Regions from separate parts of the Homo sapiens genome. Here regions 1, 2, 3, 4, 5 and 7 are each reported to be linked to region 6. The links are microRNA targets in miRTarBase. Many come from high-throughput screens and were not tested one by one. Region 6 holds a microRNA gene; each other region holds the end of a gene's coding sequence.

What was found. Region 6 holds the annotated microRNA hsa-miR-192-5p (CUGACCUAUGAAUUGACAGCC, at 2,600-2,620, opposite strand). A microRNA usually pairs through its seed, bases 2 to 8, with sites in the 3' UTR of a target mRNA and lowers its output. Matches are read on the target gene's strand: a 7mer-m8 pairs with bases 2 to 8, a 7mer-A1 pairs with bases 2 to 7 and ends in A, and an 8mer does both.
Region 1: the mRNA of PPP2R3B is a reported target of hsa-miR-192-5p. The part of its 3' UTR that is shown has no 7-base or 8-base seed match.
Region 2: miRTarBase lists FBXO25 as a target of hsa-miR-192-5p. The part of its 3' UTR that is shown has no 7-base or 8-base seed match.
Region 3: miRTarBase lists VASH2 as a target of hsa-miR-192-5p. The part of its 3' UTR that is shown has no 7-base or 8-base seed match.
Region 4: the mRNA of DIMT1 is a reported target of hsa-miR-192-5p. Seed matches in the 3' UTR shown: 7mer-A1 at 341-347 and 7mer-A1 at 2,010-2,016.
Region 5: the mRNA of ANKRD13A is a reported target of hsa-miR-192-5p. The part of its 3' UTR that is shown has no 7-base or 8-base seed match.
Region 7: miRTarBase lists GRK3 as a target of hsa-miR-192-5p. Seed matches in the 3' UTR shown: 7mer-A1 at 553-559.

The regions. Positions count from the first base shown.
Region 1 is chrY:331,148-335,214 of GRCh38, reverse strand. PPP2R3B (protein phosphatase 2 regulatory subunit B''beta) reads left to right here. Exons shown (of 13, transcript NM_013239.5-2): 13 at 698-1,282. The coding sequence ends at 848. Among named protein-coding and RNA genes, the nearest start is that of LINC00685, 14 kb to the right of the region's middle.
Region 2 is chr8:468,481-472,539 of GRCh38, reverse strand. FBXO25 (F-box protein 25) reads right to left here. Exons shown (of 10, transcript NM_183420.2): 10 at 1-3,825. The coding sequence ends at 3,736. Among named protein-coding and RNA genes, the nearest start is that of FBXO25, 64 kb to the right of the region's middle.
Region 3 is chr1:212,987,776-212,991,829 of GRCh38, reverse strand. It overlaps VASH2 (vasohibin 2), which reads right to left. Exons shown (of 8, transcript NM_001301056.2): 8 at 245-3,318. The coding sequence ends at 3,246. Among named protein-coding and RNA genes, the nearest start is that of ANGEL2, 26 kb to the left of the region's middle.
Region 4 is chr5:62,385,270-62,389,325 of GRCh38, reverse strand. It overlaps DIMT1 (DIM1 rRNA methyltransferase and ribosome maturation factor), which reads left to right. Exons shown (of 12, transcript NM_014473.4): 12 at 274-2,072. The coding sequence ends at 316. It overlaps KIF2A (kinesin family member 2A), which reads right to left. Exons shown (of 21, transcript NM_001098511.3): 21 at 1-3,842. The coding sequence ends at 3,757. Among named protein-coding and RNA genes, the nearest start is that of DIMT1, 17 kb to the left of the region's middle.
Region 5 is chr12:110,037,266-110,041,332 of GRCh38, reverse strand. ANKRD13A (ankyrin repeat domain 13A) reads right to left here. Exons shown (of 15, transcript NM_033121.2): 15 at 1,570-3,974. The coding sequence ends at 3,779. C12orf76 (chromosome 12 open reading frame 76) reads left to right here. Exons shown (of 2, transcript NM_001389625.1): 2 at 1-156. Among named protein-coding and RNA genes, the nearest start is that of C12orf76, 9.2 kb to the left of the region's middle.
Region 6 is chr11:64,888,604-64,892,670 of GRCh38, forward strand. It overlaps MIR192 (microRNA 192), which reads right to left and starts at 2,643; the gene lies at 2,534-2,643. MIR194-2HG (MIR194-2 host gene) reads right to left here. Exons shown (of 3, transcript NR_133640.1): 2 at 3,987-4,067; 3 at 1-737. It overlaps MIR194-2 (microRNA 194-2), which reads right to left and starts at 2,836; the gene lies at 2,752-2,836.
Region 7 is chr22:25,721,711-25,725,777 of GRCh38, reverse strand. It overlaps GRK3 (G protein-coupled receptor kinase 3), which reads right to left. Exons shown (of 21, transcript NM_005160.4): 21 at 1-3,489. The coding sequence ends at 3,328. Among named protein-coding and RNA genes, the nearest start is that of MYO18B, 18 kb to the left of the region's middle.

The DNA of each region.
Region 1 (4,067 bases), not on the chromosome of region 6:
CTGCGGCACAGCCAGCAGCACGCTGGGGTCGACTGCCTTCACCGTGTCCACGCCTGCTCCGGCAGTGGGAGCTCAGGTCCGTGGGGGTGACCGCGGGGAGCTCAGTGCCAGGCTGTCGGGGGCGTCTTGGAAAGCAGAGGTGTCCCCACAGGATCTCTGAGAGTCTGTGTGGTCCGTGGCCGCGCTGGGTTCCCCGGAGCAGCGCCCGACGTCACTGCCGAGACCTTAAGGGAAGGCGCGCGTCCAGTCCTCGCACTGCTGCGTGTTCTGGTCAGAACGGAAGTGGTAGCCTCCACTGGGAGCTTCTGTGCTTTGGGAGAATGTGTCTAAACTGTGGTCCTGTTTGTTCTCCAGTCCTGTGTGGACACCACGACCCAGTTGTAAACACAGGTCCCGTGCAGCTCGCTTTGGGGAAGAGGCGCGCCCGCCCAGGTCCTCTGTGTGTAGCTCACGCCCGGGGCTCCGTCCCGTCCTGGGTGGGTTTTCACCTGCACCGCAGGCCCCTCCCCCGGGAGCATTCGTGGAGCCGGCGTCCTCAGCCAGGAGCGCGTTGCTGGCTCAGCGGCTGGAGCTCAAGGTCGGCTCAGGGGACTGTCTCGTGCTGGAGGTTGGCGGCCGAGCAGCCTGTGTTTCCCGGAAAACGGCCCAGGGCCTGCTCCGCGCTGCTGGCCACGTCTTCGCCATCCCCTCGTTGCAGGTTCGAGGCCGAGCTCAGCCCTGTGGAGCAGAAGCTGAGTGCGCTGCGCTCCCCGCTGGCCCAGAGGCCCTTCTTCGAGGCGCCCTCACCGCTGGGCGCCGTGGACCTGTACGAGTACGCATGCGGGGACGAGGACCTGGAGCCGCTGTGACGCCGCCCGCGAGAACGCCGCCGCGGGGCCGCTCCCCACGTGCCACCACCGGGCCACCGCGGCTCGTGTAAAAACTGTTGTGGAAAATGAGTGCGTTTGTACGGAATGATAAACTTTTATTTATTCACAGAAGCGTGTTGATTGCCGCTGTGGGTTCGTGGCTGGACCTGCCCAGAGCTCTGTGCCAGGGGGACACGTAGGGCCGCGCGTGAATGGGACGGGTTCCCACACGGACACCCTCTGGCGCTTGCCGTTCCCGACCCAGCCTGGGTTCCGGGGCCTGCGTCTGTGGAAAGGGTCCGTGTGCGCACAACGGTGACCGGCGGCTCCCGGGCGCCTCAGTCCTGGACAGGAGCCTCCACCACAGGCTGTGTGAATGTTTTGTGTAAACGTACAAAACCGTTTCTGGCGATCACGCTTGTACGTTTGGAGGATTTTCAGTCACGGGCTCGGCTCCCTCAGCCACAGCGTGGCTCCGTCCAGGATTTACAAGCGTCAGTGCTGGAGGGGGACCGCAGCCACGCCAGACGCCTCGGGGTGCAGCCTGGGCCTCTCTGCGGGGCCCCTCCCCAGCCAGGGGGACCCCACCCTCGGGGCCGTTCCCTCCCGGAGCCACGGACCCAGGCCCCGTTCCACAAACGACCCCAGAAGGAAGGAGCCCGCGCCAGAGTGGGGACGTCCACAGCTGGGGGACACCTAAATGAGGGGGGTCGGAGGCCCCACCAGGAGGAGCTCCCTGTGCAGGGGAGGCCACAAGCACCCCAGGGGCACCCGACGTGGATGAGCCCAGGCCCAGCTGTGCTCCCTCTGCACGCAGGTGAGGGTCACAGGTGGTGACCATGGGAACAACCCCGTCCTCACACACGACAAAACTCTCCCCCAGGAAACGGAGGTGGCAGCGTCCACGCGGCAGGGCAGGGCCAAGCCGGGACCACCCCGAGAGCAGCATACGCACCCCGTTCATCCACCGGCAGCCGTCGCTGTGAAGGAGGCGGACGCACAGGGTGGTCCCGTGACCCCTGAGGAGAGACTGCGGGGGCTCCAGGTGGTGGGTAGACGAGGCAGCACCTCCCGGGGGAATGCTGCTGTCCCCAAGGTGTCCTCAGTGTCACCAGGTGCTCCCCTGAATTCCCGGATGCCCCCACCTGGGTCTGCGAAGGGTCAGGACCCCCAACAACAGGACAGGTGCAGGGCAGGAGGTTCTGCCGCAGGGAAATGACACTGGGAGCCACGGCCCGCAGGGCCCACCCTGCCCTCAGCTCCGGGGAGCCCGTCTGGGAGACCATGTCCGCCCCACACCACCTCCGGACACCACCCCCCAACACACACACACCTATGAGCCGGAGCCCATGGTCATGGGAGGGCTCTGACCAGCGCCCTCAGCCTCCCCACACTGACACTGGGAGCCCCCCCAATTAGGGTTCAAGGCTGAGACATGAGAGGCCTCCCTGGGGCCGTGAAAGACAGCGTCCCCCACCCACGACGCTGGTGAGGCCCCTGCACAGCCACTGAGCATCCTCCGACATCCCTGTACCCAATGCATTCCCCCAAGTGCCCCGTCCTTCCCCAGCCACAACCCCAGATGCCCCGGGCAGTGCCGGGGCCGGGCGTGCACACCGACACCTTTGCCGGAGAAGTGGGGGGGTCCTGTCGGGGGTCCTCGTGGACGGCGGCGCTGCGGGGAGACCCAGAGCCCAGCAGTCATGCCCTCCACGTGTTCTGGGGGTCCATTCCCCCGAGGGCTCACGTGTGCAGGGGGCCAGGGACCCCACAAAACAAGCACTCGGGGCACCCTGACCGTGGCCAGCGTCCCGCCAGAAGCCAGGATGTTCCAGGGCTCAGCGCCTCACCCTCTGAATGACAATCGTGGGTCCCCCGCACTTCGTGGCCGTCACCCCTTGGAGATCCCCGAGCAGGGACCCGACCCAGCCCACCCCTCCCCTCCCTCACGGGGTGCCTTCGTGTCAGAACCAAGAGTGTTCACAGGGGCAGCCCCGGGTCCACCCAGGAGCAGCAGCATGAGCTCTGTTCCGGGAGGACCATGAAAGGTGCCAGCCACAGCCCTGAGGTCCCGGGGCACCTCCTCACGGGACAAGACACAGCTGCTCAAGGCGCAGCAGGGGTGACCGCCGGCACCAGACCGGCATCCACAGCGCTGTCCTGAGGGGCGGCAGGGACAGTGATGGCAAGACGGGCTACCCAGAATAAGGGGACCCAGCCTGGTGGGGGGGACGGGGCCCGGAGAGCCATGAGACGGGGGAGACAGAGGAGATGGAGAGGGGGAGATGGGGGAGAACTGGGGGGCCTCAGATACAGGGGATGAGGCAAAGCCGGACCCAGCCATGGCCTGCAGCCCTGAGGTCCCGGGGCGCCTCCTCGTGGGACAGGACACAGCTCCTCGAGGTGGAGCCGAGGTGACGGGGAGCAGAGGTGACGGGCACCACAGGTTCCCAGCACTGGCACCAGACCGGCACCGAGAGCCCCGCCCAGAACAAGGGGGGACCCAGCCTGCGGAGGGACGGGGTCTGGACAGCCACGAGACGGAGGAGACGGAGAAGGGAGAGATGGAGGAAATGGAGACGGGCAAGACGGAGGGGAGGGAGGAGATGGAGAAAGGGGAGTTGGGGGAGAACGGGCGGGCATCAGATGCAGGAATGAGGCAGAGCCAGACCCAGCCGCGCTCAGCAGTTCCTAGAGAAGACACGGCTCCCGGGGGAGCGGGAGGCCTTTATGACTCAGAGCCGGGGAAGGAGCAGAGGCCGGAGGTCGTCCCCAGCACGGTGCCCACGGGCCGCCCTGCCCAGGCCGAGGGGTCGGACCCCACACGGCACAGAAGCCCCGTCTGCCGCAGCCCCGAGACACACATCCTGTGGCTGACAGCGGTGCGGCCCCTGGGCCGGCGCAGACCCCACGTGGCACAGACGGCCCCGCTGGGTCTCAAGCCTGCAGACAAGGCCACGCACCCGGCAAGACGCTGCTGCGTGGCTACAGCAGAGGGGCCTCGAACCACGTTCCCCATGACCCACGGGCAGACCCTGGCACAGCAGGGATCCCTGCGCCCTGGCGCCGTGTAGAAGTCACAGCTCCCCCAGCCTTGGCTGCCGCACACGCCACTCAGAGCCTGGGGAGCAGCCGTTCGGGTCTCGGTGAAACAGCGGCCCCAGGACGTGTCTGCGCAGCTCCTAGGCGGGGGCTGCCCCGGGTCTTCCGCACGGGGGC
Region 2 (4,059 bases), not on the chromosome of region 6:
CACAAGGTGGTGGGTGGCAGGTGGGGTGGGGGTGGGGGTCTTGGAACCAATCCCCCGTGGATACAGAGGGCTGGCTGTTCCAGCACACCAAATCTAACAGCTATGTATAAAAGGTATCATAAACCATGACTTAGTGGGCTTTGACCCAAGAATGCAAGGTTGGTTCAAGATATAGAAATCAGTCAATGTAATAACAGCACATGATCTTATGAAGGCCAAAAACTACATTATCTTAAGAGATGCAGAAAAAGCATTTGACAAAATCCACACCCTTTCACGATAAAAACAAACTAGGAATAGAAGGGAACCTCCCCAACCTAATAGAGGGTATGTATGGAAAACCCAGGGTTAACATCATAGTTAATGGTGAGACTGAAAGCTTTCCCCTAAGATGAGGAACAAGACAAGGATGTTCACTCTCGCACTGCTATTCAACATTGTACTAGAGATTCTAGCCAGCGAAACGGGGTAAGAAAGAATAAAGGACATCTAGACTGAGAGGAAGAAGTGAAACTGTCTATTCATAGATGACATGATTTTGTACACAGCATCAGGAATCTACAAAGGTGTTAAAAGAGCTGATAAATCTTATATGACAGTTTGGTTCTAAAAGCAGCACTTAAGGCAAAAAACTGTTCACAGATGGTTAAATTTTTTCCATAAAGTAGACACAGTTTGCTGTGTACAGCCCTGTACAGTACGCACACACAGTGCATACAGAGAGCCTGTACGTCATGCAGTAAACCACGACAGCTACAAATCGGTCTGCTCCTGAGAGGCTACTGCATGGCTTTCCAATTTGTGTGTATTCATAAATTAGGTGAGGAATGTGACTTTTTGACTCAAAATAGGCAAAAGGAAGTTGTAACTGGGTGTCAAGAGACACCAGCCCTGAGTGAGCAGCGCAGACTGAGAACAGGTCCGAGAATGACTGGAGATTCTATCTTGAGAGTGTCTGGCATTGCCTTTCACAGGAGCGATGGGCAAGTGAAACTTACTACCTGGCTTTAGGCTCCTGGGGTCCTGAATTATCTACTTCATTGTAATGAAGGCATCAGAATGTAACTTAATCTCACAGGAGTGGCATCCCTACTTTTGGAAGGCCCCCTGATAGAAACTGTATTCAAAAATACCATTCCAAAGTGGAGATCTATGATTTCTCTTCTCATCTCTGTTTGGTGTTGTCCGATCTTCTGTAAATAACTGATCAGTGCCTCAAAATTGTCTTTATTCTGTCCTTATACCCTCCATTAACCTTTCAATCTCTCCCCAGCAATGTAAGCCATCCCTGCTTACCTGCCCAGCTCCCACAGCTTGTCCCTCGAACGCACCTGCAGGAGGCTGTGACCCATGCAGTGGCAATGCGGCTAGCTGTGTCCATGGCCTGTGGAAATATGCCAGCCCAGCAGAACAGCTGGAATCCTACACTATTAATATGGTTATGTTTTCCAAGCAAGTACTGCTCAATTTATACAAGTTAAATGCACATCTGTGATTTGATAGCACAGCTGAGAACTGTTATAACATCTAACAATTAAATGACAGTAACAGTATATGACAAATTAGGGGAAAGAACCACAACTTCAAAAGGATAGTTTCCTTTTAAGAAGAAACTAACATGAAAAAAGACTGACATCCACCCCAAAAAACAGGCAAATACCACATTAAGTAATTTACCAAAAACAAGAAAAGCAAATGGATAATAAATATATGGAAATATTCAAGCTCACAATTTATCATACATCAAATTCTTCACTTATTAAAACAGCACCAACAGAAAAAGAAATACCTGTGCTTCAGGGATAATGGAAACTCAATGTACTTACTCCCTTTCCTAGATTAGAACAATTTCTTTTCTCAGCTGGACGTGGTGGCTCATGCCTGTAATCCCAGCACTTTGGGAAGCTGAGGCAGGTGGATTGCTTGAGCTCAAACTCCTGAGACCAGCCTGGGCAACATGGTGAAACCCCATCTCTACTAAAAATACAAAAAAACAGCTGAGCATGGTGGTATATGCCTGTGGTCCTGACTGCTTGGGAGGCTGAGGTGGGAGGATCACTGGAGGGTGAGGTGGGAGGATCACTTGAGCCTGGGGGACAGAGGTTGCAGTAAGCCGACATCATACCCCTGCACTCCAGCCTGGGTGACAGAGCAAGACCCTGTCTCAAAAACAAACTCCAAAAAAATTTTTTTTCATGAACAATCTAGAAATATATTTAAAAGCCTTAAAATATGTTTGACTCATGATGTTGGCTGTACTACCAGTGGTTGTAAGGAGACGGCCACATTGTTGTGTGACGATGCTTATCATAGTTATTGATGCTAACGGCGAGACACTCAGGAACCCCAATATGTTGTGATGAAAAAGCCTGTTCCATCTGGGTGATTCTGTGGAGCTAATAAAAGCCAAGTTTCCAAATAACATTTAGGATATGGTTCTACGTTTCTAAAAAAAGGCAGGGTCGGGACGGGGGGCGTTGTGAAGTAACAGTGGTATACGGGACATTTATGGTCTTATGAAAAACTAACATATATTCGCAGAGGCCCCAGGTATTTGCATCGCCTCAGGAGAAACTATAATTTGACAAATAAATGCATTCTTGGCCATTTGTGTCAGTTCACAGAAGTGGGGCTGAAAAATCCAGAATCTTTTTTTAGTCCTATTTATAACGCCATAAAAGTATACTTTTATTATTATGCTTAAAGGAAAAAGTAGAAATGATTTGCTTGGGCTCCTTGACCCTATTCAAAAATGGAAATATACAACAATACGTTTCTATCCTATGCCTGCTGAGGGGATTTTTCATACTCTTTTCAGCATGCACAATAATCTTTGGGTGGTGGGACTGATTTTCTAATTTTCTAAAATGGACATGCGTTATTTTAAAAACGAAGCAATCTTTTAAGGATTTAAGTATCAAAATCACTAACATTTCTCAGTAGGATGCAAAACTGATGAAGTTTAAATCAATAGATAAACATGATTTATTACTTTGTCTATTAAAGTAGTTTCAACACAATTGAAGTTTAGACTGCACTGGGCTGTTCCCATCACAGTCCAGGATTATGCACAGACCAGCCCCCAACCCCAGCAGGGGTGCCCTGCCAGAACCTGTGCTGGATGCCTAGGAGCACAGAGACCACTGCCCGTTGTTGGGCTGCGTGTGCACACTTCATACCCCGATCCATAATCCCTAAGACAAGAATGGCTGTCATTGCCCTGGGTTCACTTTCTATTCAAAGAGGACTCATTTGGGCACAGCCAATGTAGTAGTTAAAATGCATTTTGAGAAAAAATAAATATTCTGTACAATGTATTTACAAGGATCAAATGTTTTGTAACCCACCCCCAATTAGTTTCCCAATTGGGAAACTATAATTTGATAATTAAGAAGCATATTATTGGCCGTTAGTGTCACGTCAACAAAGAATGTGGAGCTGACCACCTAAAGTATTTTTGAACTATATATATAGAGAGAGAGAGTACGCAAAATTTCACATTTTAATATGCTTAGAAGGAGTTTTTAAAGAAGTAGAAATGATTTCCTTGGCCTCTGACTTTCAGTGATGAAAATGCAACCATGCAGTCCCCCCTTTGCAGAAGGGCAGTTCTTCCCAGGCTTTCTGGAAGCAGGGGCTTCCGAGGAGTCTCCACCCACCTCACAGAACACTCACTATGAGCCCTGCACAGACAGCAGGATTCACAATCTCCAATAGGGATGGCAGGGGCAGCCCTTAAAACTTGAAGAGGTCGATGAAGTGCTGCGGAGACACAGGCGTGAAGCAGCTGTCAGGGTCGGCCGCCGTGCAGGGGTGTCCTGAGTCCTGTGGGGAGGTGGGAGATGGTTAGGAGGGGGCCCCACCACCAGCCACACTCTAGTGATGGTGCTTGAGGGGTCGTCAGCTGCTTGTTGATGTGGACCCTGGGCCCCACCTCAGAGGTACATGGGAGATAACTTGGATGAGAATGACCAACACAAGGGCAGCCGCAGCCGATTCTACATAGAGGTTTCCCATGGAACTCCTGCTCAGGTAGGGCAGGAGACGGTGGCCCCAGGT
Region 3 (4,054 bases), not on the chromosome of region 6:
CTCCCAAGTTCAAGCGATTCTTCTGCTTCAGCCTCCCAAATACCTGGGATTACAGGCGCCCGCCACCATGCCCGGCTAATTTTTTGTATTTTTAGTAGAGACAGGGTTTCACCATGTTGGTCAGGCTGGTCTCGAACTCCTGACCTCAGGTGATCCACCCGCCTTGGCCTCCCATAGTGCCGGGATTACAGGCTTGAGCCACTGAGCCCGGCCACATCTTACATATTTAGAAGAAAAACAATCCTTAAGTTTCCAGGATGGTTTTATTAAAGTCCCATGCTGTGTTAGAAACATACAAGTGATGAGAAAAACATTAACTTGAAACATGCACTTACTGGCATTCTCTAAAATACCATTATACAAGTTTTCATTTAATTAGAAAAATACCCACTAAAACAATCACAGTTCTTCTTAAAGATTTAAAAAAAATGTATTGGCCAGAACAAAGTCCAAGAGAATAAACAAAGTTCTGAATTGTATGTCAAAAAAACTGTACAAGGTTGTACATAAAACTATAGCTTACAAAAGACTCAGGTATAGTAAGAATTCTGAATTAAGATTTCCAAAGTTCTATTTACCAATATCTATTAATAAAATCCTTATGAAATAATTGACTTAGAAAAAGTGAAATGCTCATGATTTCAGAGTGTATAGAAAATACTAAATATCTCCGAAATAAAGTGTACTCAAAACAGCACAACATACAGTCTAAAATCAAGATTTCTGTCATTCATTTAAACTTTGCATATATTGCCATGATGGCTTAAACATAAAATTTCTCTTGCACTAACAACTTTTTAAAACCGATTTCAAATCACTTCATAGTTTTATTTTTTATATTTTGAATTCTAGCCAGTCTTAAAATCAGCTTTGGGAGGGGGGTGCATATAACATGTTTTTTGTTTTGTTTTGTTTTTTGTTTTTTAAATTATTGCACTAGAATTTAGGGGTTTGGTGCCTCTCCCGTATTTTTTTTAGAAATTAGCATATTCCATAGGCAATAAAAGTAGGATGACAACTAAGAACATTTTAAATGTACTTTCAAGTTTGTGTGACTAAACCTTGCTTTGGGAAAATTAGTCTAAAAATCAAGGAGCGGGTGTGGGAGAAATTAGCTTACTAATTGAACCATCAAGCCAGTTGGCAGTTCTAAGGCTTCTTTATCAGCATATTACAGAGTTTGTATTCCTGTTCTTTTCCTCCTTGTTGTGGGAAACAAGCTATGCAACCATTTGACATTCTGTATTTTAGATGTAACAGTACTTAATACTTGGCAAAAATAAATTCCAACTCTTAGAATGGTTGCAGTGTTATAAGAGGTCTACTTATTAGATGTAAGCAAGTTTCAGATTGACAAACAGAAGGTATATGGCTAAGTCAGTATTGTTTTAGAATGAAAATGAAATGATTCACTATTTCAAACATCTGAATACATGTGGCCAAGAGGCTGCGAATGGGTTTGCTGTGTGTAGATAAACAGAGCTAACTCATTTTAAACTCTGATAATACTGTTCTTAAAGAGATTAAACTGATAATTTTTAACCCTGTGCTACATTTTAATCTAATGGAGATGTATACTTGGTCTTGTTCATCTAAAGGACATTCGACTTCTTTAAGAAAACAGTACTTTTCATTAATAATACTGATTTTCAGGGTGAAGTAAGCTCTTGTGCACCCTTTTGCTTTGAAGTCCTTTTGCTTTCCCTGTCACCCCCAGAAATCTTGTAAAGAATTGGTAAAGAATCTCAATGAGCTTTTTTTTTTTTTAACTTCCTTCCTATAAACACCTTCAGTCAAAGAAAGCCAGAGGAGATGCACTGAGACTGAAATAACATCTGTTGACTACCAGACTTCACTGAAATCGGCCGTCTGCTCTCCTGAGTTGGCATTGTTGCTAAGATAAAGCAAATGAAATTGAAGCTGTACTCTTGATATTTACACCATACAAGACTAGGCTGTTAGGGTTGTCCTGTGTGGTCTGCAGCCAGAGGTTACACTGTAACTACCATATGCAGGCCAGACATTCATTCTGTGCTTAGGGACTGAATTACACTATAAGGTGTAACACTGGACCGAAGACTTTTCCATTAAAAAAAAAGTGCTGCTTTTCTAATTCTTTATATTTTCCAATACTCATTCCTAAAATGTCATGAAATGGTACCTAAAAGCAAAGTACTGGAAGATAATCACATCATGTCACATTTGGTCTTAATATAAGACATCAGAACACATCTTTAACAGTGAGTCCTCCCTTAGTTTGATTCTTGGCATCCTTCAGAAGAATCAAAGCCTGCCTCAGTTTAAAAATCAGATGAAATGTGAACAGAAAGGTTTTTTGGTTCTGAAGACCTGCTGATCACTCCTGGTCTCTGCCTGAGTGTGTTAATGTCAGAGGTAAATCCAGTACCGCTAAATTTGTATAATAGTACGTGACCTCTTGTGCTTTTTGTTAGAGTCTGCAAAGTTTAAATGTTAGTGACAGAACATAGACTAGCTTCTCAATGTGATATTTTTGTTTCATTTTGAAAAAACAAAAACATCAGTGAATGCTTTAAGAAAGATTAAGAAGGAAGTAACTCCAAGATCCTGAAAATGGTTCTTGTATTGCCAGAAGAATTTCAGTGCTTTTTAGTAAAACACTTGCATATAGTACCTTAAATCTCCTCACGTGTGTGCACCAGGAAAAAACTCCAAACTTGTGGAGATCCCCATGGGAAATACTGGGGAAAGAATACAAATAGAATATAAAAAAACAAAACGCCATTAAGTTTGCATATCTGATGTCAAAATGCTGAGGTAATAACTGCTTAAAAAAAACCCACCCATTTTTGCTTTCTGTTATTGCTGAAAAAGACAGTAATACTGTTAGAGTTACCTTACTATACCAAAAGTTCAAGAGATTATTTCATGAACATTTACTATTGGTGAGGCATAATGTTCAAAGCAAGTAAAAGAAAGTAGGTAAATGGAAAAATATAAAACTTCAGTTACGGTTATCCTTAAGATCTTGAGTGAGGGACATAGTCCAACCCCAGTGGGGCTTATTACTTCAGCCTTTTCATGGTGCCTTTTAGTGAATTTTTTAAAGCTAATGGTTACCACCCACTCAGATTCTATTTCCAGGTGAATCCTTAAAAATAAAATTCACAAGTTCTTAATAAATAGTTGCAGTTCCTCCTGAAGATGCTGGGTAAAGTGCAGAGAGAAGCACCACAGAAACCCTCTTGCTGGCCGGTATGGCTTGGCTAAATTCGGATTTGATAGCCCACTTCATTCAGAGTGCTCAGATCAGCCACCTTCTTTTCAGGCAGTGCAGGCCTAAGGGTAAAAGACAGAAATATGGTGGAGGAGAGGGGATGGGGCAAAGAAAGACAACAGCATTTTCAAGGTCCTCTACTCGGTTTTCCTAATCCTTCTGATATTTGTCTCATCCTCCCATTCCCCCACCCTGCCAGCCTTAGCTCACAACTCTACTTCTTGTTCTTAAGTCCACCTTTAAAGGTTTTAAGGAACATTTTAACAGACTTTCAATGTAGAGTTCAGAAAAGTTTTCAGGGTGTGGAATGAGCTTCTGCAGCTTTAAGCCTGACTTTGGTCACATTATAGCTTTTGAAACCCAGTACTCTTGAACCTTGCAAGGGTCTAAAAGTCACATACACTACAGTAGAGCCAAGAATCTGAGTCAAATTCTCCTTGAAACATTGGCTTCCTAGTGTTCGTGTCCTGGAGGAAGCCCAGGAATCAAAGGTGACTCACGTTCCCAGGGAGCGGTTAATGTTCAGGCTTGAATGTATAAAATCAAGGTGAATCTTAGGATTCATCTGAAAAAGCATGTCAGTGTGGAAAATCACTCAGTGGCAAAACATCTCTTCCCTAGAAACGTGCTAAAGTCACTTCCAACATAAAACTACAACTAAGCAATTATGCAAAGTCATGTGAGAAAGTACTTCAAGCTGGGAAATACAACATTCACATCAATAGCACATCATCTGTCTTCATTAAAGATGCGTCCTAAATGACTTCCAATATACGATTATGCCTAAACAATCTCACA
Region 4 (4,056 bases), not on the chromosome of region 6:
TTAGTAGAGACGGGGTTTCACCATGTTGGCCAGACTGTTCTCGAACTACTGACCTCAGGTAATCCACCCGCCTCAGCCTCCCAAAGTGCTGGGATTACAGGCATAAGCCACTGCGCCCAGCCAGTAACGTTTCTTTAATAACTAGTATTAGGAGTGGGTGGGCTCTGTAAGCATGCTGTATTCATGTTTTAGTATTAATGGTATAGAACTATATACCGTTATGTGCTACAAATTAGCTTTTCAGTACCATTCCATTTTGATTTCTTTTTTCAGATTGCTACATGGATTCAACGCAGAAGGTATTCATTTTTCCTAGGTATTTGGAAAACAGAAATTTTCAAGGTCAAGAAAAGAAATGAATTTTGTATTTTTTGTATTTGAGAAGATAATGCTTTTGCTTTACTGAGACATTATTTACTTGACTATTTTTGGTTCAATACTACTACTGTTGTCACCATTTATGATTCTGAATTTTAAAGTTGGAAAGTTCTAAGTATCAAAGTTTTTAATATATAATGCTGGTCCAATCTATTCATAATAATCTTCAAGTTCAGGAGCCGCAGAGACGCACAACTTTACACTTATCATTTCTAACAGTTTATTGTATAAAGATGTTACTCTTCTATTTACTGTTATATACTGTAAGGCCTTCTTTAGGCCTTTAGCTCTGTTCCTCCAGTAATAAAAAAGTTAAAATATGCTTCACTAGTCACACATTCCCCATACCATTTCGTGTTATTCACATTCCCCGTACCATTTCTTGTTATTCACATGTACAGTAAAACAATTGTTTCTTAAATTATTTTTATTTTGGTTCTCTCATTCTCTTCCCTATTTATCCTATACAGTGTCTGTTACGATTGCCTACCTCTTTCGCTATCCTATAGCGTCAGAGACTTAGGGTTCTGGGTAAGCCCAAGTCTGCTACTGCCACCGTGCAGTGCCAGGCATATTAAAGGGCATGACTCCCAACATGTAAAATGAGGAAGCTAAACTGGAATGAAATTAACAATAAAATTATCTTTTTTTATGGTTCTTAGGGAGATAACTATAGGCTTAGCAAAATTTCAGAGGGTTTTGTAATTGAAACTGGTTTCAACTTCAGAAAAACAGCCATTTCCCATAACTACAGGTTCCCAGTATTCCTATGATTTCTGGACAATTAAAATTTCCAGTTCCTTTTTCATATACCTGGTGCTTAGTTTTAAGCTATTTTAAAACTGTCAGACTGAGAATTTCAATAGATGTCATAAACTAGTTTTATTAGCTACTATGTTTAAGTCAATATAATACTAAGTGCTGTTAATATACTATAATAGAGTTATAGTAGCTATTTTGTTTCTATAAAAAATTAATAAAAATATCTTTATTGATATTTGGCTTTTTTTAATACCTAACTTAATAGAAGAGTGTTTCCAATTAATTTAACAAAGCCAGATTTTGAAATCTGGCTTCAAAGTCATAGTAAATGTTACTACATAATTAAAATAATGCTTGTTCTTAATGTATAATCCAGAACAAAGGCATCAAGCTGCTTTTGTTAAACAAATATGAAATAATATACATTAAGAGTAGATTTTTTTGTTTAATTTCACAAAACTATTTTGCAGAGTTCACTTGTATCATCTCTATCCTTATAGTAAAAATTTTAAGATTTAACTCGGCTTTCTCAGGTTATTTCCCTCTACCCCTATGAACTGCTGAGTTTTAGTTCCTTTTCTGGCCTTCAGTTTTCACTATCTGTAAAGCTGAAGGACTGTATTATATTACCTCCAGTATCTTTTCTGGTACTAATTTTTAAAATACCTGATCAGAATGAAGCCATCATAGTGTAAGGCAGCATATTTGTCTATAAGGAGACTTTCCAAAGACAGTACCCATCCAATGCAAATAATAAATTTGAAGCTAATCATCTGTTGTGCTTTAAAATGAGCAAATTCACATGTCTTTATTGCCCTTTGAAAGTTGGTTAATCTCAAAAACTACCTTTTTTTTAAATATCCTTTGCAAGGTCAATTGTAACAGTTCTCCATCCTTCCTCTTCCCTTTGAAATAAACACAAATAGAATATATCTTACAGCTGCAAGAAAACCTGAGTCCTTTCCAAAACAAAGGTGACTGAAGTAAATTATCTCTAAAACTTATTCCATAGACTTCATTTATTAATAAGCATATTGTGAAAATCTACATTTGTTTTAGATTTCATGTTTACAGAGCTTTTCACAATTGTATTAGGATCTTTCACAACTACTCTCTGGGTTTTATGAACAGTAAAGAATCTGGCTCATGTGACCCTCTATTCATAGCTCCCCTTTGGCTCCTGTGAAGGAGCTGATAGTTCCCTGGAGTAAATAAATCAAAACAAGATATCCTTGGGAGATTTTTAGCTGTTAATCTACTCCTGGACCCCATCCTGGGAACTGAGGGAAAACTCCTAGAGAGATATACAAATCTTTGAACAAAATATTTACATGAAAAGTGGCCAGTTTTCTTCCTTGGAGTAGCAATCTGTAAAAATAAGTGCTGCTGTTTAAAAAGTAGCATGCCCTACACCATACCAATGTATTAGTGAGAATTTGGCGATTCTCACCAAACAACAATGAAGTTTCACATTTGGTACTGGATGGAGCTTGGGTTAGATCTGCCTTTTAAGGCAAAGTCAACTCTTTCAACTTAATTCTTTTTCAAGGGAGTAATGTACTGTCTACACTTGGCTTAAACTAACTTCTATTATGGACTACTTTCAATGTACATGTAAATGTTCATGCATCAGAAGCCAATTTCTTTTAACAGTACATAGAAAAGGTATATTTTGGGGTGCTAATGAACACTTCAAATTAAGTAATGATATTGGTAAGGATCAAACTGCACTATTAGTCTTGTTAATACCACACTGGCACACACACTGCATATATATGTATTTTCCTAAGATAAAACTCTTCTCAGAATTTCATTACTTTTTATTATACACCAACTAGTTTATATTGTAGTTCTTTACAAAGAAAATGCTAAGAAAAATTATAATCACATGTTATATGGTTTTAAAATAATAATTCCAGATTTCTTTACATATAAGATGGAATGGTCCAGCAGCTATATCCACTGTCACAGACTTTAGTTCCGTTCAATGATATGGCACATCCTGCAAAATTAACTAGTCACACACAAAAAATGTCTCAAATACAGTAAAAATGTACACACAAAGGTAATTTACAATGACAAGGAATGTAATTTTTCTTGGCTGTGCTTCAGAAATTTAGGGTCAGTAGCCTTAATCAAGGCACAAAGCAGGAAAAGGTGAGCACAGCTGTCTCTAGGAGTGGGCAAGGTATGTACAATCACTGATGAGGTATGCATGCACGCAAAGGATTTAAAACTGCTCAGTCTCACTACAAAAATTGAACTGAGTTAAAAGGAAATGCTGTGGCTTCCCCCTACTATCTGGCTCTGGATTGAGTCCACAGTCTTACTTCATCAAATAGAAAATAAAACTGACAAGGATCTCCAAAAGTAAATCACTATTTGTGTAAATGAAACAAAATGCTTCATTAATCCCAGTTCTTGGTTGTGCCTCCTGGACTAGAAGCATTTTGTAGACAAAAGAGTGTTTCACAAAATTGAAATGTAATTCAGGTGAAGGACAAAACATTTTCCACAGACACTTAAAATTCCAAACTTTCAAATGGCCCTTACAGCTGAACCGTTGTATGTTACAGTAGTGAGGGTTCTGGGTATCCTTTAGCAGCAAATGCCGGTTTAAAGGGCACGGGGTCTCTTCGGGTTGATTTGCTTGCTGGCTTGTTCCTCCTCTTGTAGAGCTGCACGGAAAGATTTCACTTTATCTTGGAAAAAGAAAAGAAAGAGGGAATAAGTATTGTATTACACGCAGTAAGAGTTTACAACTTTATGGGTTCAATCAAGTCAGCTGTGTTATTTCCTAACAGTAACTCAGTATTTTTCCTTTTGTTCTTTGTTGTCTAGAAACTCGGAACTAAATAGAATGCTCAACTATTGCGAAAGTTTTTTGTTACAGATTTCCAGAAATACCTGTTTTTC
Region 5 (4,067 bases), not on the chromosome of region 6:
ACTGATTTTAACAACCTGCATTTAATGTGAAGTAACCGAAGTAGGATACTGTAACTGTGTAAGGATTTTGTTTGTAATCTTGTAACATTGAACCATTGAAATGTTCAGTTCTTTGCTTTTGAGCAAAACGTCAATTAAAACTAAAGTAAAATCCTATATATTGTTTTACTCCACCAGTTATTTCCCAAGTGTTTGAAATGCAGGTGTGTGTCTGAATTTGATCTAATCACTTAAAGAAGCTCTGTGAAGTGAAATTTCTTTTTTTGAGACGGAGTTTGGTTCCTGTTGCCCAGGCTAGAGTGCAATGGTGCATTGTTGGCTCACTGCAACCTCCACCTCCCGGGTTCAAGCGATTCTCCTGCCTCAGCCTCCAGAGTAGCCAGGATTACAGGCATGAGCCACCATGCCTGGCTAATTTTTTTGTATTTTTAGTAGAGATGGGGTTTCACCATGTTGGCCAGGCTGGTCTCAAACTCCTGACCTCAGGTGATCCACCTGCCTTGGCCTCCCAAAGTGCTGGGATTACAGGCGTGAGCCACTGCGCCTGGCCTAAAGTTGAGATAAAAGTCTCCTAGTGCTGCCTATGATTTAGTGACTGTGGAGTCATATCAGCATGTTGTATTTTTTTCCACCTGGACCTCAGGCTTAAACCTACACATATTTCTAAACAGAGGCCTAGGTGGTACTTTGAACTTCATCACTCACTGTACCACTGAATCACTTGAAATCTCCACATCCAGTTCATCTTCCTTGATGTCATTTGTGGTCAGCAGGAGACTGCGACCAAGCTGGCAGTTATGGCAGTTTCCCTTTCCTGTCATTATTTAGAGCAGACTTTCAATCCCTTGACATGCCACGTTTATGTAGTGTGACAAGCTTGTTTATAGAGCAGAGTGCCTTAGGAACTTAGTTCCTAGCAGTGTCTAACGTGCAGAAGTTGCTCAATTAAAGTTTCTGGCCGAGTGCGGTGGCTCATGCCTGTAGTCTCAGCACTTTGGGAGGCCGAGGCGGGTGGATCACCTGAGGTCAGGAGTTCGAGACCAGCCTGGCCAACATGGTGAAACCCCGTCTCTACTAAAAATACAAAAATAAGCCAGGCATGGTGGCACACGCCTGTAATCCCAGCTACTCGGGAGGCTGAGGCAGGAGAATCGTTTGAACCCGGGAGGCAGAGGTTGCAGTGAGCCAAGATCGCGCCATTGCACTCCAGCCTGGGCAACAAGAGCAAAACTCCGTCTCAGGAAAACAAACAAACAAAAAAAAAAAACCACTTCCTGCTGATATTGGGCCACTCAAGCTTAGCTTTTCAGTTTTTAAATAATCCATAGTCATTGCACCTCTTGACCTGAAAGAGTAATGGTTTTCTTCATAGTGTCCTTGTGGCTTCAAAGTATTGATATCTACTTTCCCCTAAAAGCAAAGCAGCTCCTTTACATCTTCCCAGAAATACAGCCTCATTTCTGGAACCCATACATTTCTACTGGCCACTGCCTTTGTTGTTTTTAATACCCGCTTATTTAGATATAGGAAGAGTTTGGAAGCCTTATCATCTGGACTTCTAGGAACAGCCTCACAAAGCAGTTGGCTTCAAGGGATAGCATTGATGCAGAGCTTTGATGTTGGCTGGGCTTCCCTTACCCCACAAGAGCCAGTTCCCCTCCAGGAGGACCACAGAGGTGTCAGAACAGCCCAACACTGGCTTGCTTTTAGTTGCCATTTGAAACAAGCAGCATGGGGCTTGTTAACCTGGGCAGGAAGGCTGGGAGGAGCATGCCACCTTTGCAGTGATGAACTGAGCGAAGTGAGGCATTCTAATGTTCTACTGACATACGTAACAGGAAGTGTGGGTACATCCAGTGACTAGAAAAAACTGAAAAGGAAAAAGACTCAAAGACTGGAATTTTGTATGAGCACCCTCTAAGGAAGCAGTCTTTATTTGCATTTTTAGAGTGAACACATATATGAAAAACACTGCAACAGGTTGACACAATGCTCAGTCCCTTTTTAAGTGAATTCCTGGGGAGAAAGTCAAGGACCTTAGGGAGCAGAGCAGTGGAATGCAAACACAGAAATTACCTATGAGTCACTTTTGTGAGCCAATGACACGGCCTCACTGCAGCCATTCCAAGAAGTATCTTTGCTCACGGTAAATGCAAAGTAAACAAAATACCACACTGCATATTTGAAACAAACAAATGTGACGTTGCCTATACTGGCCTCATGTGCAGAAGGAATTTTGGTCAGACAATGACAAAAAAAAAAAACAAAACAGATTGTGAAATGGAATTAAAAGCACAATTCTTTGTATCTGGGAACGTTTCACTGGCAACACTAACTGTATGATACAGACGTTACCTGGAACAGTAGTTATGTTTCTCTTCCTATCCCCAAAGAAGCACAATAGAAGAAATAGACGCAAAATGGAGGAGGGTGTTGTTTACCAGGTTATTTCAGTGCAGCCTGTGGGAATGAATACACGGGCCACAGTGAGCAGTGCCCTTGGCTGTATTCCCCAGGGTTCTGTATGTTGTGCGATGGTTATATACAAGAGGGTTTGACAAAAGAGAGTTAACTACTAAAGGTATCCAAAAAAGGCCTGAGAAAATCTGGTTAAAATGTATAACCTTGTATTGCTACTGATGGGAGTTGTTTTTATATCTTTTACAAATAATAAAAAGATTGTTAAAAAATAGATTTATCCAGAAAGATGTTGATTTGAACTCTAAAAAGCAACGTGGAATCATTATTTTCCCTTTTGAATGAAGAGCCATGGAGCTCCGTGGTTTTCAGCTCCCTTTCTGGTTGCAAATCAATCCTTCCTCTGGAGTGAGTCTAGGGCATGCGGGCTCTTCCTAGGTGTCTACGTGGAAATCCTTCACTCATGCAGGTGTAGAACACACCTGGTTTGGTTCTGTGTGTTCCAATATTTTGGCCAGCTTGCCCACTTCAAGAACAAGCCTCAGGTTCCCCTAGCTGCTCCTTCAGGGACAGGATTAGCTGCCTTTGATTTAGCCTGGAGAATCCTGCTCTCAAAAGAATTGCCTTTACAAATTCAAATCAGATCCTTCGATGCGTGCAGTGAGGTGATGTGAAACTATTAGTAATGTTTAAGGCTAAGGCAACATCCATGGCCATTTGTGTATCTTAATTTGATGCAAATAGTTAACAATAATCTAAAATAGATTCTATATGTATCTCCTCTAACTTTAGCTGGGTGTGGAAGGAATGGAATCAGATAGATGGAGGAAGAATAATGACAATGTCCTAGAAACCCTGTAAAAAGGTAAAAATAAGGAGATCAGCACAGATTACCCATTTCTTTGGTGAACAGTAAAGAAGTGTCTCCAATTCTCATAGATCACACTTTACAAAGGCGGCTGCTGCTCTTATATATAAAAGCACCCTGACTCTGCAATAACTTGTCTTGTTATCACTCCTTGATAAAAATTTATCTACAAACCTGCGGGGATTGGGGTTTTGTCTAAAGCTGGTAGTAAAAATGTGACCTGCAAGCCAATACAGCTAATGGAAAGTGATGATGCTCTCCTCCCCTTAGCCTGGAGATGGGGCCTGCAATCCCTGGTCCCTTCTCCACCCCAGGGAGCAGCCTGGATGGGCCCAGGAGTCCCTGGTTCTGCACCTCTGCATAAAGAAGGGGCAGTTGTTGCCTGCTGCATGCACGCAAGGTGCAGGCCCTTAGCCCTAGGGCCCTGGTTGACACAGCATCTGTGACAGCCCACAGCCTCTGCTTTGTGCAGAGGCTCACAGGCTGAAAGGTCTATTTGTCAGTGAGTGACAGCTGTAAGACTTGCTGGAGCTCAGCCTCTTCCTCCTGGAGCCGGAGCTCCCATTCCTCCAGCTCTTTGGCAGAGAGCTCCATGGCTAGCTGCAAGTCATTATCAAAACGGCTTGTCTCGCTCAGGGCGCTGGGGCACAGGCCTTCTGTGCTGGTGAGGAGGCTCTCCTGGATGGCCCTGGGTTGGAAAACAGATAAAAAGGGAGAGTCACTACTATCATCATCATGGTGGCAGCAGTAACTACATTTCTTAACCGCTTACCAAGGGCAC
Region 6 (4,067 bases):
TCCCAGCCACAGAGCATCCAGGGAGCCAGTGAGTGGGGTAATGGGGGGCGGGGCGGGGGGCCAGGCAGGTGTCCGCGAGGGAGTGACCCTTGGGCAGGTCTTGAGGAGTTCTGAGAGGGGTTGGAGGTGAGACCCAGGCCAGGGAAATGTGCATGGGCCCAGGGCCTGCTGGGTAAAGGACACAGGTCAGTGGGCTCAAGGAGCTGGGGGAGGGTGCTGGATCCGCCTTGCTCATGCATTGGAACAGGTCTCCAATAGCCCTCGCAGGCCTTTGTGGGATCGCAGTGCTCTGCAGAGGCAGATGCAGGAGGACCCCCAGGGCAGGGTGGCTGCTGTCTGCTCCCCTTTCACCCTATGCCAGTGCTCTGAGTCTGAGGCCTGACAGCCCCAAGAGGGTTAGAGTCCAGGGCCCTACCATCCAGCCCATGTATCCTGAACACCTACTATGCTGGTGGGTGGGGGAAGCAGCCAGGGAGGATGAGTAAGTCATGGACCTTGCCCTCAAGGAGTCTGAAACTAGCACAGGATTAGATAAGCACACAGGGCTCCTTAACTCTGTAGGGAATGAGATAAGGGTGGCGGGAGAGGCCCACGAAGCCGGGGTGTGGGCAGAGAGGGGAGCAGCGCCTGCAGAGTCATGGGATGGTCTGCAGGGAGGGGTTGCTGAGCTGGGCCACGGCAGGGGCCAATCGGGGCCCAGGGATTCAGAGCAGCCAGGACAGTGTGAGCAGAGCTGCCTGTGGGAAGGGGAGAGAGACAGTGTCTTAGGGGCCAGATGTTTGTTGGCTGCCTACAGTCCCCAGGAGAAGGTCCAACTTGCTCTGTGACTTCAGCAAATGTGCACCCTCTCTGAGCCTGTGTCCTCCTGTCCCAAACAGGTTCATGATGGATGCCAGGAGGACCAGGTCCTGGATGTGCGTGCCCAGCAGACAGAAAGGGCTCAATAGCCAACGCCTGTTATTAAGCAATTTGACATTTATTCCTAGGTCTCTATTTCCCATTTTACAAATTTTATTTTGTAGTACCAGAAACCTTTTTATTCAAATGAAAAATTCTGACAGGGCACAGTGGCTCATGCCTGTAATCCCAGCAGTTTGGGGGGCTGAGGCAGGACTGCTTGAGGCCAGGAATTTGAGACCAGCCTGGGCAACATGGTGAAACCCCATCTCTACGAAAAATACAAAAATTAACCAGGCATGGTGGCACGTGCCTGTAGTCACAGCTATTTGGGAGGCTGAGATGGGAGGACTGTGTGAGCCCTGGCAGGTGGAGGCTGCAGCAAGCTGTGATTGTACCACTGCGCTCCAGCCTGGGTGACAAAGCGAGCAAGACCCTGTCTCAAAAAAAAAAAAAAAAAAAAAGGAAAATTTCCTCAGAACCCCGTTGTATAAGAAACAGGTGGGGCTGGGCGCGGTGGCTCACACCTATAATCCCGGCACTCTGGGAGGCCGAGGTGGGCAGATTATCTGAGGTCAGGAGTTCGAGACCAGCCTGGCCAACATGGTGAAACCCAGTCTCTACTAAAAACACAAAAATTAGCTGGGCATGGTGGTGCATGCCTGTAATCTCAGCTATTTGGGAGGCTGAGGCAGGAGAATCGCTTGAACCCAGGAGGCAGAGGTTGCAGTGAGCTGAGATCATGCCAGGAGGGGAGGCTTCCTCCTGGGAGGAAGCCTGTTGCATTCCAGCCTGGGCAACAGAGCAAGACTCTGTCTCAAAACAAACAAACAAACACCACAAAGAAATAGGTGGAAATGAGGCTGTTGTGGGAGGCGGGACAGGGGTGGGGTCAGCTGTCCTGTCCTGGGTTGGCTGCTCTTCCTCTACCAGCAGCTGGGGTCCTGGGCCCTCTTAGGAATCCTAGGGGCTGGAGAAGCTGCTCCACCAACCACAGGGCTGTGCTCCAGGGAGATGAGACTGGCAAAGGAGGGGAGAGTAGGAAGCAGATGGGGAGGCTGGCTCAGGGCCCCATCCTGGGTGGGGGGGCTCCAGCACAAACACTGGGCCTAGAGCACTCAGCCCCCCTTGGCCACACTGCATGTCGGTGGGTGCTTCCTCAGGGTGCAAGACAGAGGCTCAGGATTGGTTCAGCAAACATTTATTGGGCACGCGCCTGGGCTGGGAACTGAGCTCACAGATGGGGAGAGGAGCGAGACATAAGCAGAAACCAGCACCGGGGCTCCGAGAGGGCAGTGCTCTGCGGCAGCACTGTGTGGGGGTGCCCAGGTGGGGACTTAGAAGCTTCAATAAGGCCTTCTGGAGGCAGCAAATGCTTGGACAGAGCTTGAAAGGGTTAGTAAGAGTGAGCCTGGCAAATAAGCTAGGAAGAGTATTGCAGCCCAAGGGAACAGCATGGGCAAAGCATAGAGGTGCCACAGGGCAGGCAGGGCAGGGGCAGGACTGAAGCTGTTCAGGCTCATTCACGGGGAATGAGACAGAGGGAGGTGGGACCATGAGTGCTGCACTGGGGTCGCAGGATCTCTGCTGACTGCTGGACACCCCCGGCCCTCCCCTATCCCTGCAGGTCCTGGTGGCTGGCATTGAGGCGAACATACCTGTGACCTATGGAATTGGCAGCCAGAGGGGAGACGAGAGCACTGGCTGTCAATTCATAGGTCAGAGCCCTGTGCACTCGGTCTCGGCAGCCCACCGACAGCCCTCCACTACCCGCCACCATCTGGCCTGGGAGCGTCGCCACGGTAGTCCTGGCTGGTCTGCTGGCCAGCACCTGCCTCTCCTTCTTCGTGGGTACTGGCCCTCGCCCCAGATAACAGCAGCCCCACTGGAACCAGTGGGCACTTCCACATGGAGTTGCTGTTACAGGGGGCGGGAACCAATTGGAGACCGGGGCCCTGCCTGGCGTCCGCCTTCGGCAGGGCTCTGGAGAGTGTCCCATGCCCACTCACCTGGGCTCCCCAGTCTTCGTGGCCCCAGGTCCATGGTCTTTTCACCGAGGCTTCTTATCATCCGGGGCCCACACCTGGCGCCCCGTGTGCTGCCAGCACTCCTTCCTGGGCAAAGTCCAGGCTCAACCCCAAATCGGCCTCATAAAGCCGGGAGCGGCTCGGATTTACAACTCCTGGGCAGCCTTTGCCCGCTCTGATGACCCCACGCCCTCTGTCCCCAAGTTATTTTGTTTCCTTGTTTCTTTCCCAACCAGAGCTGGGCCTCAGTTTCAGGTTTGGCCACTGTCACCTCTGCCCTTTGCCCACCCTCCCTGCTGCAGCCATGGGGCAGAGAGACAGCAAGGGACAGCTGGCACTTGTCAGTCCCCAGGGACCTCCCAGTGCCTGATTTCATGAGGATGGCCTCGTATGGGAAGCTGAAGATGAGACTAAGAAGAAGTGTGGGGGGCTGTGTGGGGGAGGGCACAGAAAGAGGGATAGTGAGGCAGAGGGGCTGAGAGAGGAAGAGAAGAGTAAGGCCGAGGATGGCGGTGCACACCTGGCATCCCAGCACTTTGGGAGACCAAGGTGGGAGGATCTCTTGAGCCCAGGAGTGCAAGACCAGCCTGGGCAACACAGTGAGACCCCATCTCTACAAAAAATAAAAAATTAGCCTGGTGTGGTGATGCATGCCTGTGGTCCCAGCTACTCAAGAGGCTGAGGCGGGGGATCACTTGAGCCTGGGAGGTCGAGGCTCCAGTGAGCTGGGATTGTGCCACTGCACTCCAGCCTCAGTGACAAAGAAAGACCCTGTCTCAAATAAAAATAAGAGGAGCAGGTAGAGAACTAGAAAGGAACAGAGAAAACAAACAGGGATAGTGGATGACGAGGTGTAGGAAGGGGGACGACAGGGAACTGGAAAAGATGTAGATACACAAACCTGCCGCAGAACATGAGGAACAGGCTGTGAGCAGTGGCTCGCCTGGAAGGACGCTTAGGACCTCAGTGGCCTGGAAGACAGCAGGGGCCTGGGAGCTGGGTGACCTTGAGCAAGTAGCGTAACCTCTCTGAACCACTGTCCATATGTCAATCAGGACTTACGAGGCCACCCTGCACGCTGGGCTGGCCTGGTGGGAAGCATCCGCCCTGGGACCCTTGGGTCTCTCTCCGCTGTGGGGAGAG
Region 7 (4,067 bases), not on the chromosome of region 6:
AGACGGGGTTTCACTCTGCTAACCAGGATGGTCTCAATCTCCTGACCTCGTGAACCGCCCCTCTCGGCCTCCCAAAGTGCTGGGATTATAGGCGTGAGCCATCGTGCCCGGCCAGCCCCTTCTTTTTAAACATAGGACCTGAAATTGTCACGTCAGTGAATGGACCAATCAGAGGCATGAGCACTTTGCATGAATGGTGACATAATAAGCTGACTTCTAGAAGTTTTGTTGAAAAATCATACTTAAATATGACAAAGAAGGAAAACCAATGAGCCCCCATGACATGAGGGGATGAATGAACCAAAGAGAATGTTTTAGGTTAAAAATAATAAACCTGAATTCACAAAGGTTTTTAATTTATTCCATATATATCTTACATAGCAGCTTAAAGTAATCTATTATTTTTAGGCTTTATTGATTCTTTTGAATCATGAAATCAAGACTTATTACCGCATGATTTTGTAAAAATATCAACCTCAATTATTTTTCTCATCAATGTTAAAATATCCCAACCACAGGAATCTAAAATAATGAAAAAAAATAGGCTGAATTTTGACCTTTTTAATAGTTGGAGTGTAATAAGGGTGAACATCTAGGAATTATGTAATACTTGGAAAACCTTCTAAAACATCCAAGTACTATGGCTGGGCATGGTGGCTTACATCTCTAATTCCAGCATTTTGGGAGGCCAAGGAAGGAGGATCACTTGAGCCTAAGAGTTCAAGACCCCATCTCTACCCAAAAAATAAATTAGCCAGGAAAGGTGGCATGCACCTGTAGTCCTAGCTACTCAGGAGGCTGACGTGGGAGGATTGCTTGAACCTAGGAATTCAAGGCTGCAGTGAGCCATGATCATCCCACTGTTCTCCAGCCTGGGTGACAGAGCGAGGCCCTATCCCAAAAAATTAAAAAATTAAAAAAAAACAACAGCCAAGTATACCATGATGTTTAATCCAACTGACTTTTCCTCTGGCCATGCAGGCAACCGGGTGCAGACACAGCGGTATCCTGTGTCTGGTCGCAGAAACACCTCCATCACAACATTTTGGCAGAAGGCACTCAAACCAGACCCCAACACAACTGGTGACCGCCCTCAGAAACAGCTCAATCTAGTCTTACAAAGCACTTTTAATAAATGACATCTAGATGTACTTCTCAACCATATCATTACAAATCAAATGTGAGTTGGGGAAGTGTAAAAGTTTACACTTTTGTTTGAAGCAAAAGGACTTTCAGAGCATTTTCCAATTCATATATCTTTTCTAAAAGGGAGTGGAGCCTTATGTTCTATTCTTAGAGCAGAAATTCTAGTTTTTGAAAGAGATGCGGATCAGCTCAATTTTAGAACAAGTATGGGAAAGTTGAATAATCTTTCTGAACACGTTTGTGCAGCTCACGCCCTAGGTACGAGATATTAGACGCTAAGCCCAGACCCTGGTGGAGTCAACAGCAGGCCCTTTATCCTGGAGATCTAGAACAGGCATGAGGCCCAGCGCATCCTCAACTGCACATGCTGAGAACCTATGAGCTTGAGATGCAGACGGGAACGGCATCAGTCACAGCTATAATTAACCAGGGCTGGGAAGACATTCACTCTTTAAGAACAATGGCTTTTCTGCTTCTGGAGTGTGTGTGTGTGTGTGTGTGTGTGTGTGTGTGTGTTTCAACAGAATTTGAATACTATTCTTCCTTTTTAAATAAGGAGAATGCATGTAAGTAGTACATCCCTCCTCCCACACTGGAAATAACAGATAGTAGAAAATGTATGTTAATTTAAACCCCAACTAGTAGTTGAGATAGACAAAAAAAAAAACCCACATTTTTTTTTTTGCAAAGTAACTCTTATGAAATAATGGACCCTTTTGGTAATTATCTTCCAAACTCTCAAAATAACTGCATTAAAAAGTACTTACTTTGCCCATGAACACAGCAAACAAATACAAAAACAAAGATTTGGAACTGCTAAAAATATCAAGGACAGGATGCAGACAATTACGATGTCAAGTTATTTATACTGTTAGTAGTTAATGTAAAGACATACACTAAAACTACTCCAAGAATGGGACAAATACGTGGATTTGTAAAATTTTTTTTTTAAGACTGATGACATGGGGGATTTCGCTGGTTCTCATAACCCAGCATCTATTTGGGGGTATCAGTGGGGCCTGGAGGCAGTGGGAGAAAACAAACTTCACAGGGCAGATGCTGCTGGGACCAGGAAAAAGGCTTCATGCCCTAAGGTCCTCACTGTCGTACAGCCCAGTGCAAAGTATCATTCATTCATGACAGATGCATGACGACATGAAAGTCAATATACACAGTTAACCCATTTTGACACATTCATTCCTCAGCATTTTTTCAATACAATTCATCTGAAATTATACTAAGACATAAAACAGACCTGCTTTTGTACATCCATTACTGATATGTCTCCCAGGGTCAGGCAGAAGGAACCAGAATGACTGTCACACAACTGCTAATTGTCGAGACCTGAGACGGACTCACCCATGAGTGCTCCTGCATGCCAGGTACTGCTTGTCGACTCGTGCACACTGGACTCAAAGACTTTTGAAAACTGCTCTTGCCCCTGAAACCTAAAACTCCACGGCCTGTCCTTCAGAATCACTGTAAATCTTTCCAATGATGGACGGATGAATGCCTTCAATGATTAGTTAATCCCATACACTTGGATAGTACGTGTCCGTCATTCCCACCTGGCTGAGGGGGCCCCGGAACAGACTGGTCAGAGGCAGGGCAGTCATGTGGGTGCGGCTCCCAGAGGAGGGCCCAAGTGCAGAAATATCTTCAACTTTTAATATCATCAGAAAATATCTTCAACTTTTAACCCCAGGACAAGAAGTCAGTTGCGAAGTGCACAAAAGAAACACACTGTGGCTCTCCCATCCCCCAGCAGTATGGAGCAAAGACATAGAAAATCAGCAGTGACTAGACAGAATATGTGGCAATGCTTAGGGCAATCTGTTACCCAACACTGAACATCTTTAAATTCCATTCTGGGGAGTCTAAGATGTGTTTGATATCAGACATAAAAATTTACGTGATAAGTAGGAGTCACTTCAAGTTCTAGGTTCATAGGTACCAAAGTGTGTAGCAAAGAAAAAGAACTTTTATTTCTTCAGTAGTTTCTAATGCAGACAAATGTGACAAGGCAGGGAGCTGAGCTGACCCCAAGCCGAAGGGTCCCGACTCCTCTCGGGAGCCTGGAGGAGTCCCGGTAGCGAATAGATCAGATGCCTCATCCTCGTTCACCCCAAAAGGCTGAGACCCTGGTGTGTCCTCCTCGAGGACCCTCCCTGTTTCTGGGTGCTAGAGGCCGTTGCTGTTTCTGTGACAGAGGGATGGCTTTGGGAGCTCCACAGTACCTGACCGAGGTTTGTTGAGGAACTTCGGGGCACGACGCAATAGCCGCTGGGCCTCCTTGAAGGTTTCGTTCAACTCTTTCTTCCACTGCACAAACTCTGGATCACTCTGAGGGGGAATACAAAGGCAGCCGTTGTGACAGGCTCACCCATTTTGCCAACAGCGGAGGCTGCCCCTATTGATTACCAGCGTCCCTGGAACCCCTGAAGGAAGCACACCCTACGTGTCCACCCCCAGTGGCATTACTAGCTGATGGGTCACGCTGCCACCTTCTCCAGAATCTCTTGAAAAGAGCAGGGAAAGGCCACATTAAAACCCTTCAGATGATTCCAGTACAATCCCACTCTGAGAATCACTGCCTTTAATTTGTTTAGAGATTACTTTTGATTTCTAAAACAACTGAAATCTATAATAATATAGGGGAAGGAGTTTTGACAAATTAAAAAATGTTTTAAATATATATTCATGTATGTAATGTAGTACTGATGTTAGTAAAAATGATTTTTTTGCATCTAATACGTGTTTATTTCTCTAAATATGCTCTCTTAAAACACACACACTAGTGAACCAGTCACAAAGTGTCCAGGAATGAAATTTGTGTTACAATGTAACTTTGAGGAAAAGATGGCATTTTCGTTTAGAGAAGATGGCATTTCAGTTTGCCGTCTTATATTTATCTAAATATA